Homo sapiens: one gene and its partners. The protein of the gene in region 2 purifies or fractionates together with the protein of the main gene of each other region. This does not show direct contact. Each region holds a gene or a part of one and is shown on either strand. Other genes may lie near its edges.

Evidence for each region. The genes of interacting proteins can lie anywhere in the genome.
Region 1: the proteins of CDK8 (region 2) and MED12L purify together in Homo sapiens (affinity purification with mass spectrometry; 5 studies listed by BioGRID and IntAct, with this or other methods). This does not show direct contact.
Region 3: the proteins of CDK8 (region 2) and PCF11 purify together in Homo sapiens (affinity purification with mass spectrometry; one large-scale study listed by BioGRID and IntAct). This does not show direct contact.
Region 4: the proteins of CDK8 (region 2) and MTBP purify together in Homo sapiens (affinity purification with western blotting; 2 studies listed by BioGRID and IntAct, with this or other methods). This does not show direct contact.

What each region holds. Positions count from the first base shown.
Region 1 is NC_000003.12:151,088,664-151,092,163, forward strand, and holds part of MED12L (mediator of RNA polymerase II transcription subunit 12-like protein), read left to right. Parts: intron 1-3,500. UniProt on the Homo sapiens protein: May be a component of the Mediator complex, a coactivator involved in the regulated transcription of nearly all RNA polymerase II-dependent genes.
Region 2 is NC_000013.11:26,260,629-26,264,128, reverse strand, and holds part of CDK8 (cyclin-dependent kinase 8), read right to left. Parts: intron 1-3,500.
Region 3 is NC_000011.10:83,167,131-83,170,630, reverse strand, and holds part of PCF11 (pre-mRNA cleavage complex 2 protein Pcf11), read right to left. Parts: coding exon 3,323-3,500; intron 3,217-3,322; coding exon 2,733-3,216; intron 2,204-2,732; coding exon 636-2,203; intron 1-635. UniProt on the Homo sapiens protein: Component of pre-mRNA cleavage complex II, which promotes transcription termination by RNA polymerase II.
Region 4 is NC_000008.11:120,451,919-120,455,418, reverse strand, and holds part of MTBP (mdm2-binding protein), read right to left. Parts: intron 1,573-3,500; coding exon 1,514-1,572; intron 1-1,513. UniProt on the Homo sapiens protein: Inhibits cell migration in vitro and suppresses the invasive behavior of tumor cells. May play a role in MDM2-dependent p53/TP53 homeostasis in unstressed cells. Inhibits autoubiquitination of MDM2, thereby enhancing MDM2 stability.

The DNA of each region.
Region 1 (3,500 bases), on a different chromosome or scaffold from region 2:
GATTTCAGGGTCTCACAACATTTTATGGAGTTCTAAAACTGGAAGCGACCTTAGGGACTACTTTCTATAACTTCCTTTTGACTAAGTGAAACAGGCCTGGGAAAGCTTGACTCGTTTAACCAAGGTGTATAGGTGAATAAGCAGAGGAGTTGTACCACCAAACCAGTATTTATGTCAAAACTAATACTGCTTTGAGGATGATTTATGCTAAATTATCTTCTGATGTTATCCCCTTTCCCCCAAGGCAGCCAATGTTTTAACTCTCCCAAGCAGACAGAGTTATGTGTGGCTGTAGCCAAATTTGGGTACAATATGGAACAGGTGCTTGGCTGTTCTTGGGTGGTTGGTGAGTAGAGTTTCCTAAGCTTTAGTTATTTATGTCCTACCTCCCTCAAGATTTCTACCCTACCCCTGTACCACCTGTACTTTTATTCTGAAGTTTTCTTTAAACTAATTTTTTAAGAAACTTTGTGTTTCCTGGGCAGTACTACACGTGGAGTCATGGATTTATTGAAATATATGTATATATAAAATTTATATCAAATCATGTTTACATACTATTTTTAATCTATTTGATATTACATGCACACACGTATATGATTATACATAATAAAATGAGACCATTACTATTAACACTTTAAAAGTTCATCTGTGTATCGAAAACAACAGTTGTGTTCCATTAGAGATAGCTGTGGTGGAAAATGCTGATTTAATGGAGGAAGTGTGGGCTTCCAAGTTGGGCCAACCTGGATTTAGCTTTTTTTTTTTTTTTGCAATTGTGTGGCCTTGGGCAAGTTGCATAGCCTCTCATTTGTAAATTAGTTTGTGCACTTCAGAAAAAATTTCAAACCAACATTTGTGTGAGAAAAGCCCTCCTCCTGGTAGAAGTTATTCTTGTCACCATAAATGTAATTTTTATTGTTGTTGTTAACCAGTGGTAATATATTTCAGAAAAGGGCTCCCAGAAGGTAGGGTGGAACCCATGAACGAAGACCCATGTGGAGAAGTATGGGGGTGGGGCGGGGGGGAGAATATGGAAGCTTTAACCTGCCTGATGGATTGGTTATATTTTTTTGAGAGCTTGCTGTGCATCAGCATCCTGTAGGACTTCATTATATATTGTGTTATAATACTTTGCTTCCTACAAACAGACTGTGCTCAAGCCTTTAAAGCAGGGAATCAGAAAACTGGCAGTCATCCTTGAGACCTCCTCCTTGCTTATACCCCATTCATCCATCAGCGTCTCTACATCCATGCGCACATCCTGTTCAGTTCCAAAATATATTTCCAATCCACCAGATGCTCTCCAGTTTCACCAGTATGCTTGGTCTCCCTTCTGGCTTCAGGGTGACTTCTCTTCCCCAGGGCTCCTGCATATTCTGTTCTGGTCTTTCTGCCTGGACACCTGTCTAGCCACCCCCTCCCACTTAGCATTCCACTCAGCTCTTCTCACCTTAGCCTGTGGTTAGAAAGGTAGGCTCTGGTGCCAGTCTGCTTGGGTTGGGACCCTGGCTGTCCTGTTTATGTGCCCCTTATTCTCCCTATACTTCATTTTCCTTCCATATAGAGTGAGAGTGATAATACTACTTAACTCATAGGGCTGTTGGAAGATTACCTAGATAGTATATGTAAAAAGCACTTAGAACAGAATCTGTCATAGATTCAGCCCCTATATGTTTGCTGTCATGAACTACTGTCATGCCTGCCCCTTCATCATTCAAGTCTCAGGCTTTTCTGATATATCATTTACAATTATATACTTATTTGCATCTTGCCATCTCCCCCTAATAGGTCAGTTTCATGAGGGCATGGATGAGGTCTGTTTTGGTATGGCAGAAGTACCTGGCACCTGCACAATTAGTTCCTAGAAGGCTGAGGGCACAAATATTTATTGGAACATGAATAAACTTGGGATGAATAAATTAAAAAGGGAAATCCGGTGACTGAGGGCTGTTGGGGAAAGTCAAGGTTAAAGCTGAAAGTATCCTTTGCATCTATCTGCTTTGGAGCCTAGGTTAAGCCTGAAAGTAAAATTAAGCTCCAGAAGTAGGAAGGAAGAGGAGGTTTACTCTGGGACAAAAGAGACTGAAACAGGGCCAGGCGTGGTGGCTCATGCCTGTAATCCCATCACTTTGGGAGGCCGAGGCGGGTGGATCACCTGAGGTCAGGAGTTCGAGACCAGCCTTAACAACATGGTGAAACCCCGTCTCTACTAAAAAATACAAAAATTAGCTGGGCATGGTGGTAGGCGCCTGTAATCCCAGCTACTTGGGAGGCTGAGGCAGGAGAATCTCTTGAACCCAGGAGGCGGAGGTTGCAGTGAGCCGAGATTGTGCCATTGCACTCCAGCCTGGGGGACAGAGCAAGACTGCATCTCAAAAACAAAACAAAACAACAACAACAAAAAACAACAGAAAAAGAGGCCGAAACATTTGAAGAGTAAATATGTGCAGAAAATCAAATTTGTTAGAAAAATGGGTTGGGGCAGTAATGAGATTTCCGGGAATCAGGAGCTGTAGAGCCCCACCAGCAGGGACCTACGGGAATAATGGCCTGGTGTGCAGTGCAGGGGCTGCCCGAAGATATACACAGCATGACTTAGGAGAGCTGGTGGTGATGGTGGTGTCTGCATGCGGATATCCCAGAGTGGTGGTTCTTCAACTTCAGAGGACATTCAGATTACCCTGAAGGCTGGTTGAAACAGATTGCTGGGTCTCTAAGATTCAGTAGGTCTGAGGTCAGGCCTCAGAAATTGCACTGGTGACAAGATCCCAGGTAATCTGATGGTGCTGGTCTAGGGCCCCACTTCGAGAACCCTCACCTAAAGGGAAGACATCCAGTTCTGCAGGGGCTAGAGCATTCTGCTTGATACGAGCAGGGCTGGATTAGACTTCTATGTATGGCTGAAGTTGCAGTAGTTTGGTTTAACAGCCAACCCAGCCAAGATTTGGTGTTCTTGTCCCAGAATTTGTGCCCTCTCTTAGTTCAGATCTAAGGGAATGGACCAGGAAGTCTCAGTCCCCCTCCAGTGGCTTTTTCCATTACACTTGAAATAAAATGCAAACCCTTTACCTTGGCCTTCAAGGCCCTACCAGTCTGGCCCTTGTTCACCTCTGCAGTCATTGCCTGCAGCCAAACAGCCTGGCTTTGAGTTCTGGCTACTCTGTTTACTGCCTGTTTGACTCAGCTTCCTCAACCATGGAATGAGGTTTGTATTTCTTCCAACTTCATAGAGTTGCTGGGAAGAGAAAATGAGCTAATGTATGCAAAGTGTGTAGAATCGTGCCTGTCACACAGGCAGCACTCAACACAGGTCAGCCACTATTAGCTGATCCCTTATTAAAGGATGCTGGGGGTCTCCTGTTGTACTTAACCATAACAGCCACAAGATCCTGCCTTTCAAGATCTGGGCTTTGAGTCACCCCTTCCAACTTGCTGTGTGGTGGGACCACAGGCTGCCTCTCTCTTCTTCCAACAGGCCTAGCTTCTTTGTGTATAGG
Region 2 (3,500 bases):
GGAAATTAGGTATAAACTTAATTTTTGCAAAGAAAGTCACATAATAAAACATTAGGAGACTCATTTACTTAAAGGGAGTCTTGGCTGGGAGCGGTGGCTCACGCCAGTAATCCCAGCACTTTGGGGGGCCCAGGTGGGCGGATCACGAGGTCAGGAGATCAAGACCATCCTGGCTAACACGATGAAACCCCGTCTCTACTAAAAGTACAAAAAAATTAGCCGGGCGTAGTGGCGGGCGCCTGTAGTCCCAGCTACTCGGGAGGCTGAGGCAGGAGAATGGCGTGAACCCAGGAGACGGAGCTAGCAGTGAGCCGAGATCGTGCCACTGCACTCCAGGCTGGGTGACATAGCGAGACTCCGTCTCGAAAAAAAAAAAAAAGGGAGTCTTTTAGCCGGGCGCGGTGGCTCACGCCTGTAATCCCAGCACTTTGGGAGGCCGAGGCAGGCGGATCCCTAAGGTCAGAAGTTTGTGGCCAGCCTGACCAACATGGTGAAACCCCATCTCTACTAAAAATACAAAATCTGCCAGGCTGGTGGCACATGCCTGTAATCTCAGCTACTCGGCAGGCTGAGGCAGGAGAATCTCTTGAACCAAGGAGGCGGAGGTTACAGTGAGCCAAGATCGTGCCATCGCACCCTAGCGTGGGCAACAAGAGCAAAACTCTGGCTCAAAAAAAAAGGTAATACCTACTCCCGGCCGGGCGCGGTGGCTCACGCCTGTAATCCCAGCACTTGGGAGGCTGAGGCAGGCGGATCACGAGGCCAGGAGATCGAGACCATCTTGGCTAACACGGTGAAACCCTGTCTCTACTAAAAATATAAAAAACTAGCCGGGTGTGGTGGCGGGCGCCTGTAGTCCCAGCTACTCGGGAGGCTGAGGCAGGAGAATGGCGTGAACCCGGGAAGCGGAGCTAGCAGTGAGCGGAGATCGCGCCATTGCACTCCAGCCTGGGCAACAGAGCGAGACTCCGTCTCAAAAAAAAAACCGAAAAACAAAAAAAACCTACTCCTTCTTTCCTCAAAAATATGACTTGTTTAATATAAACTACATTAGCACGACTTGACAAGTTTTCTTTTTATTCAATCCCTTTAGTCCTCTAAACAACCTATAGATTCAAATGTCTAGAAACACCCAGAGTAGGCCCTTCATCATGATGTAAAAATTCCTCTCTGTAGGATGATTATTTGTTAGAATTCATGGATTACAATAAAGTTATAGACTTTAAAGAACTTGTCTAGTGAGATGAGTAACTGAGTTACCTTGAATAGAAGTTAGTCTAAATAATTTTTTACTCATGTAACAAAAGGTAAATTTCAAATAAAACGATCATGCTATACAGACCAGTGATTTTAGGCAAAATTAAATGCCAACTGTGATTCAGAAACTAATTACGTTTTCCTTAATTTTAGAAATACAGATTTGATCCACATTTTAAAGGGTTCATTTTCAAAGTATATTTCAAAAAAATATTATTTCTAGTGGCTCAATTTTCAAATACCTTGGCCTTCCATTTCGATTCAGCCAACTACCGAGCTTGCTCTTGCCTTTGGATTGATTTTGGTATTGTTCAGTGCCATTCTGGGTAAAAACATAGGAAACCCATCAAATTTTGCTTCTCCTGGTATTTTCACAGGTATTACTTTTCTACTCTTCCCGTAATATGCCTCAAGCTTTTAATGTTAGCAAGTTTAGAAAAAAGATTTTCAAACATGAATTTCAGATACACACACACACACATACACAAAAGTACAAAATACCTGTCAAAATTTGGCAATATGCCAAGAGCTGGGGAGAACACAATCATTGCCCTAAAGGAAATCTATAATTTTAACCCATAAACATTCACCTGAAAGACCCAAAGGACACATAAGCATTAACCACATATACACTGAAGTAGTTACATAATATATCAGTGAATGACTATGTTTTGCAGGGTGACGGGTAAAGTGGGACTTATTGGAGTTGTATGTTAAGATACGTAGTTAGGATTTTTTTCTGAGGCTGTCAGTACATTTCAACTGAGAAAAAAGCATTTCCAGCACAAGGTGCTGCCTGAGACAAAAAAAATTCCAGCACAAGGTGCTGCCTGAGGAAAAGGTCAGAGTGGTCTAAGTTGATGGAGGAGAGCAGCTGTATGAATCTCTGTTTCAGAATTACTGCAATAGATTATGGTGTGAGCACTGTCCTGGAATAAAATAGACTAGTCAGGTCTTGTACACAAAGAACAAAGAACTTGGTCCTAAACCAAAGTCAATGTAAAGTCACTCAAAATTGGTTCTCAGCTGCTTTGGATATGATCCAGAAATTCCACTCCCAGGTATATACTGAAAACATACATCCACCTAACAAGTCACACATAATTGCTTATCGAAGCATTATTCATTTTAGCCAAAAAGTGGAAACAACCCAAACGCCCAATTGATGAATATATAAACAAAATGTGGTATATCTATACAATGCAATATGATCCAGCCATAGAAAGGTATGAAGTACTGATACATGTACCACATGGATGAACCTTGAAAACATTACATTAAATAAAGAAACACAAACACAAAAGGCCACATGTTGAATTAGTCCATTTATATGAAATGTCCAGAACAGGCAAATCCACTGAGACAGAAAGTAGATTAGTGCTTGTCAACGGCTGGGGAGAGAGGGGAATGGGACTGACTGCTTAATGGGTTTCTTTTTGGGGTCATGAAAATGTCCTAGGATTAGACAGTGATGGTGGTTGCACAGCCTCGTCGATCTACTAAAAAACACTATACTGATCACATACTTTTAAAAGGGTGAATTTTATGGTATGTGACTTATATCTCAATTTTTAAAAAGGAGCTCTCAGCATTTTTTCTGCTACAATACATCTGAAGAACATAACTCCATCAGTAAAGGCAGCTTACTACAGCAAGGACTGGTTTTGGGACTTTGACAATAACTATATTAAAGAATATTCAGAATCATGATACCAACAGTCTTTAAGTACTAAGGTCAAAACAACAGGTAAAAGCCACCTTTTAGTGACATCAAGAGCTGCCTTGAGGTGATAAAAGATTGCTAAAGAGAAAAGATAATTTCTAAGTAACATGACCAAGGCTACGTAATCTGGTGTGAAGGAAAAAATTCACAAAGTGTTCTGAAGGAGGAAAGGATAGTAGGAGTTTTATTTTCTAGCAGCAGCTAAGAACAGAAAAAGAGTCAAGAGACAATGAGGATTGGATTCAATAGTGAAAGGCACTACAAGAAAGATTAACACCAGTCACAGGGAATCAAATGTATTTATCAACACTGATTTGCCATACATAGTTCCCATCTAACAAATGAATCACATTTCAAATGTTTATAAATCAGAATTAGAACACATTTGCCCAGAGAATTAATTGTCAAAGTAGTTACGTTTGCAAATGGCCTATAATAATTATAATTTTTCATTATTTCTGTTTTCCTAGCTGAAATTCAGCATGCCAGAAGCCCTGTCCCTACCTTTCATCTTTCCACA
Region 3 (3,500 bases), on a different chromosome or scaffold from region 2:
TTTTAAAATGTATACAGAACAAGTGTGAAAGAATACCAACAGGTAACAGTGCATGTTTCGTAACCAGAGTGTATTTGGAAGGCTATTCGCTATGTTGTCATTAATATCAAACAATTGTGTTTAACTGAAGTGACTGGAAAGGTGGTAAAAAGTAGGAAAAAAGGACCAAAAAAAAAGAATTGTAGACTGTGAAAGCAGGGACACAATTTGATCTTCTTATTTAACTCAGGTTAAGGAAATTCTTGGTCAAAGAACAGTTCAATCAATTCTATGGCTACCTTAAAGCACGTCAGGGCTCAACAGTTCTGCAATGTAGAGGTCTATGACACACAATTGTATAATATCTCAAAAGCTTTAAAGCAAAAAAAAAGGAAAAAGAAAAAACAGAGCTGGAGGTGGGGGTTTGATTGAGATATTTCCCTAGATCCTGAAAGAGCTAAAATCAATTTTGGATTTAAGTTGCAAATTTCATCCCCAAAAGATGCTCATCCCACTTCCTTAGCATGTGGCTTTAGAGTACATTAAAAACTTCTTTCCAATCTACACAATAAACTATGTCCTGAAAACCCTCCTAGAAACATTAAAAAATGGTTAACTTATCTGCATACAACGCAATTTTAGAATAACAGACTTACCTGTTGAGATGCCTGAATATTTCCTACTGTCATTGGAGCAGGTATATTGCCAAAGTTTCCAAATTGAGAACTCTGAAGATTTTTTTCATCAAAATAGTGTCCAGAAGCTCTGTTAAGTGGATTAGAGAAACTCTGGTTTCCAGGGCCATGTGGTCCATTAAAATTTGGTCCTTGAGGTGAATCAAATATTTGTTCATGTCTTTGGAACTGTAGTCCTTGGGATGGGGCATTAAAAGCATTGCCAGGTGGATCATTATATGGACCAGTCTGATTGAAAGATACTGATTCAAGCCTTTGTGAAGGATGATTGTCAAATCTTGTGCCTTGAAGACCAAGAGGAATATCAAACCTTGATGCTTGCTGATGTTGTGGACCATCAAATCTTTGAGGTACACCGTCAAATCTGGGTTGAACCTGCTGTCCAGGTGGTCCATCAAACCTCTGAGGGCCTGGCTGACCAGGAGTCCTTTCAAATCTAGGACCTGGCTGACCATGTAATCCATCAAATCTTGGCAAGAGTGACGGCTGACCTGGCTGCCCATCAAACCTTAAAGCATGACAACCTTCAAATCTTGGACCACCTTGACCCAGAGGCCCTTCAATTCTCAGGCCACCTCCTGGTACAGAAGGACCCTCAAACCTCATTCCACCTCCTTGTTGGACTAAAGGGCCTTCAAACCTGATACCAACCCCTGGCTGACCATGTGGACCCTCAAACCTAAGGTTCCCACCAAGTTGATTATGTTGTCCCTCAAATCTCAGACCAGCTACTGACTGACCATGGGGGCCCTCAAACCTCATTCCAACCCCTTGCTGTAGCAAAGGGCCCTCAAATCTGATTCCACCTCCTGGCTGACCATGAGGTCCATCAAACCTAATCGCAGCCCCTGATGGACCATGACCCCCCTCAAATCTAAGTCCACCTACAGGCTGACCTCGGGGATTATCAAATCTAAGTCCACCCACAGGCTGACCATGAGGTCCCTCAAACCTTAGACCACCCACAGGTTGACCACGATGTCCCTCAAACCTCAGACCACCCACAGGCTGGCCTCCTGGTCCCTCAAATCTCAAACCACCTGGAGATCCCTCAAACCTCAGACCAGGGGAACCTTCAAACCGAAAACCACCTCCTCCTGCTTGACCAATTGGGCCCTCAAACCGCAGAGGTGTCCCCACTGGTCCTGGAGGACCTTCAAATCTCAAAGGACACCCACCTCCTAGCTGACCTTGTGGCCCCTCAAATCTCAAAGGGCCTCCTCCCCCCATTTGTCCTGGTGACCCATCAAACCGAAGAGAAGCTGGTGTGGGAGGTCCATCAATTCGAGGGCTTAATTTATTGGGTCCTTCAAAAATCATCTTCGTTGGGCCATCTCTTGCTACTGATGGCCTACTAGGTCCATCAAATAACGGTCTGTCTTCAGCTAAAGCTGTAAGTCGCTGATTTGTATCCAGGCCGGCGAATCTTGATGCTGGACTATCTACAAATGGTTTATCTGAATCTTCATATCGAGGTCGCTTAAGTGGAAAACGATCATTGAATGGAGATCTCTGCTCTTCTCGCACACCTTTTAAAAAGGAAAAAAATTATTTTCACTAAAGTTATCTTAAAATCTTCTATTTTCGTATGAATGTTTATCCAAATATATAACTATCTCACTACATTAGAGGGGCAGGAGAGACCGACAGCGTAAAGCAGCAGATAAGAGGATGCCCTCTAGAGTCAGACACACCTGAGTAACAAAAAAATTACCATCCTATCAACATACTAATTATTTCATTTTGAGAGCAAGTTATTTAACCTCTCTTTTATTTCCTATCTGTAAAATAGGGAGAATATACACTTCATTGTATTGTTGTGAGGATTAAATCAAATTACATATAAAAAATACCTAATGAAGTACCTGACACACAACTGGCCTTAGAAATATTAGCTCCCTTCCCTTCCCTTTCCTTAAAGGGAAAAAACATAACAAAATAAATGGGAAAAAAAATGGTAATCTGAACAGTCACAAAAATCCATCCCCACTTAGCTTGTTCATTTTCCCTTCACTGCTGTGTGATTCAATAGGCATAATCTGATTTAACTTTTTCTACCTTTAGCAGAGACTTGCTCGTCATGTCTTCTCCGGCCCTCATGGGGTGAAAGATTCTCAGCATAAGTACGACTCCCAGATATAGGAGAAAGACGTCTTGCTCTTTCACTAAATTGTTCTTTTCTGTCAAACTGTGCTCCACTATTCCTACTTGCATGTTTACTTTTGGATGGCTCACATTCTATTCCAGACAACAAGGCATCAGTCAAAGGGTAGTCAAAAATATCAGGATCTAAGAGATCAAGTCTTGGAAATGAATGCTGAACCTGTGTCCTTTTCAGTTTTGCTTTATGTTCATAGTAGGTTAATTCAGCATCAGATAAGAGAGGTTTCTTTTTTAATCCACCTTTATTTTCTTCTGTAGGACTATCCCGTACATTGCATCTATGTTTACCTTCTTGATACTGAAATAGCTGTCGAATTTGATGCACAACAACAAGGAAGTCATCCTGTGTAATTTCACCAGATGCTAAACGTTCACTCGTCTGTATAGGGGTGATAAAAGGAAATAAAATATTTTAAATATAAAAAAATACCAAAAAAATAGACGATAGATAATGATGACTACATGGGATTAATCATAGTAACTACCTTTTGAAGTAATTCTCTTTTGCTTGCAAGAGTTAACTCTTTAGGAATCTGAAGATTGGCATCTACACTTAATCGATGCTGTTGCTGCTTTGGGGCTCGAGGTGATAAAATTCCTTTAGTGCTTGACCAGCTCTCCCTATGCCTCAGATGAGGAGGTTTACTATGTTCATCAACCTGT
Region 4 (3,500 bases), on a different chromosome or scaffold from region 2:
GCATTTTTGTAATTTTTAAAAAGTTAGATCTGAAATGTCTCAAAATAGTACCCTGAAGAACTGAATTTTATGTTTATTTAGAAAAATTAGTTTTATATTTATTTAGAAGACAAAGGAAGCTTTTAGTTTTAATTTCTGAAATTCTCCAAAACAATATACGCCCTTAGGAATTCAAACTTTTTAAATGTTCATCATTTATTGAAAGCCATGTTATCTTGAAATAGCTAGCATATACTAGAAAACAATAAACTATATCATAATTACTTGCCAATTCTGCAGCAGTGGTTAATTACACACATCACTCTCATGATCATCAATGCTATTGTACTCAACAGAGAAAAAAAAAACCTGTGCAATTTCATTATATTTTTCTAAACATAATTTTGTTATCCAAAAGAGAATGAATAAGTGCAAAACTGTAATGTTCAAATAAATGATGTCTCTTTTATAAAGGACAATAAAACACTCTGAAAACCAATTATACTGACATCATCATTGGATCCTGAGAAAAAATAACTTCACAAAACTTTAAATTTTATAAAATTATACATTTCCTGAAGGACTACAAAAATCAAAATGAAACAAACTGGAGATAAATTTGATAATGAAAGTATTCTAATTTGCCAAAACAACTATGTAATATTTCAGTGCATACTTTGACCTCAACACATTTCATTTTAAAAGTTGATACGTTTGTCAACTCATTCAGTTATTTTTCTATGTGGGGCTTTTTGTACTAATATATGATCTCCTTGAATATAGAGATCTGGCTGACTATAAGCTAAAAGCTCCTTTATGTTAATCACAGATGCTTTATTCATCATGGTACACTTGGCTCCTAGTACAAATATTTACTTACTAATGACCTTCAATAAAGCATTCAGAAAAGAATACTCTTCAAAGTATTTGCGGATACCAACTGTACCAAATATTAGATGACAGCTACTTGATTAACACAAAGGAAAAAAGAAAAAAACCAGTTTTAGGAATATTATGATACAGTATGTCACAGGTATTCTTTCCACTATGGGGAAAAAAATAGGTTCTATAAAAAAATGCTGAGGAAACACTTTCTTTTATGGTATGACATTCCATTTGACAATGCATATAGTAACTTCACCATAAAAGAATGTTATCCAAATCATCAAGGCTAAATAATCTCCTTTTTAAAGAGCTGTTTATAGGATTAGTCTTCTATAGAACATACTCTGAAAAGCAACAGTCTGTAGCAGGAAGATTCTTCTTCAGCAATAACTAAAGAAACAGAGATAGTTATTTAATGTCCAAAGTTCTAATTTTTGCCTAACTAAATGAAAACAATGAAAAGAACTGCTACATCTCGGTAATGTACTCCCATGGATACATTCTGTATCAACTTCAATTAAAAATTGTTTTGCATTTTTTAATTTAAAGATTAGAGTGAGAACACTAACATAAAGAACAAATTTATCATTTATTCATAAAGTGTAATAAGATAAGATACAAATTATTGAAAGCAGTCATAAAATATTACCAGGAGCAGGAAGCTTGTCTGACAGCTGATGCAAATTTTCTGCAGCTTCTTCATAGAGACTAAAATAAAAGGGTAAGTTAGGGAAAGAAAACCCCATAAATATATTTATATATAATCATAATAGGTAATATTAACTAAAAAGATTGTTGTACAGACACTGTTAAACATGTTAGATGTATAATCTCATTTGATCTTTATGACAATTCCAGGAGGTACTACTATAATACTATTATCTCAACTGTAAATAACTTCCCTAAAGTTACATAATTAGTATGTATGGAAGCTAGGATTCAAACCCTGAGTACAAGTTCTTACCCACACCCCAAAAACAATCAAAAAAAAGGAAATAAAACTCCCTAAATTATAACTAGCATATTAAATATAAATCATAACTAACAGACCAAACTTTTTTTGGAACCTTTTATTTATTTATTTATTTTTGGTTTTTGGGTTTCTTTTGAGACAGGGTCTGACTCTGTCACGCAGGCTGGAGTGCAGTGGCATGATCACAGCTCACTGCAGCCTCAATCCCCCAGGTTCAGGAGGTCCTCCCACCTCAGCCTCCTGCATAGCTGGGATAGCTGGGACTACAAGCACACACCACCATGCCTGGCTAATGTAGAGACGGGGTTCTGCCATGTTGCCCAAGCTGGTCTCAAACTCCTGGGCTCAGGTTATCCGTCTGCCTCAGCCTCCCAAAGTGCTGGCATTACAGGCATGAGCCACTGCACCCAGCCATTTTTCTGAATCTTAAAAGTAAGAAAATGCTAAGTGTTTAATAAAAAAGGACATGATTTTTCTCTGAATGGTATTTAACAGTCTTGACTAAAGAATATGACGCCCTCTTCAGATTCTTCAAAACTTATTAGTTTTATCTATATGATGCAATTTTTTTCTCAAAAAAGTTTATTATATAGCATAAAGGTACTTAAATCCTTTACTATAAACCCACCGTCTTAGAAACTTAAGGCATCTTATGTAAACTCTAGTTTTCAGGCTCCCCCTTGTGGAAATAATTATTAGGTCACTTATCAGAAACTTTTATACTTGCCTTTTCTTTTTTTTTTTTTTTTTTTGAGACGGAGTGTTGCTCTGTCGCTCAGGCTGGAGTACAGTGGCAGAATCTCAGCTCACTGCAACCTCCGCCTCCCGGGTTCAAGCAATTCTCCAGCCTCAGGCTCCCGAGTAGCTGAGATTACAGACACCTGCCACCACGCCCGGCTAATTTTTTCTATTTTCAGTAGAAAAGGGGTTTCACCATGTTAGCCAGGCTGGTCTTGAACTCCTGACCTTGTGACCCACCCGCCTCGGCCTCCCAAAGTGCTGGGATTACAGGCGTGAGCCACTGTGCCTGGCTATACTTGTCTTTAACAGTGGTAGGAAAACATATGGGATGATAAGAGTTTTTAAGGGTAAATGAAAGCACCTAAGAAATTATCTAAAAGTACTTCAATACTTTATGGATGAGAAAACAAACGACCAGAGAAGTTACGTGACTGGCCTAAGATTGTGTAAATAAAGTCTACCTCTACTAATCCCTGGTTCAATGATATTTCTCTGGTTTGGAAAGGTCTCCTTTTATTAATCAGTACAAACAAATATGATCTGGAAAAAGGAAAATGAAAATTTTTAAGTCTACAGCTACTTACAGATATAATATGTGAATACTAAAATAAGAGCAGTTTTGTCATGAAATGTTATGAAAGACTAAAATAAAAGGTATTAACTATAAGAGGTGGGATATTTCATCAAGAGAAAAATTATTATCACAACTTATGTCACCTGGATCAACTTACATATTGTACCACAATTGAAAAAAACCTAAAAGTGAACTCAATCATGTACATATAATCCTCACAAACTCTATGGATTTTAAAAGGTACCTGAAATGCTGCAAATACACATAAATTAAAGAAGTCACATATTTCAGCCTCAAATAGCAAAATGAAAATGATACTTTGGTATGAATGCTAGCTATTAACATTAA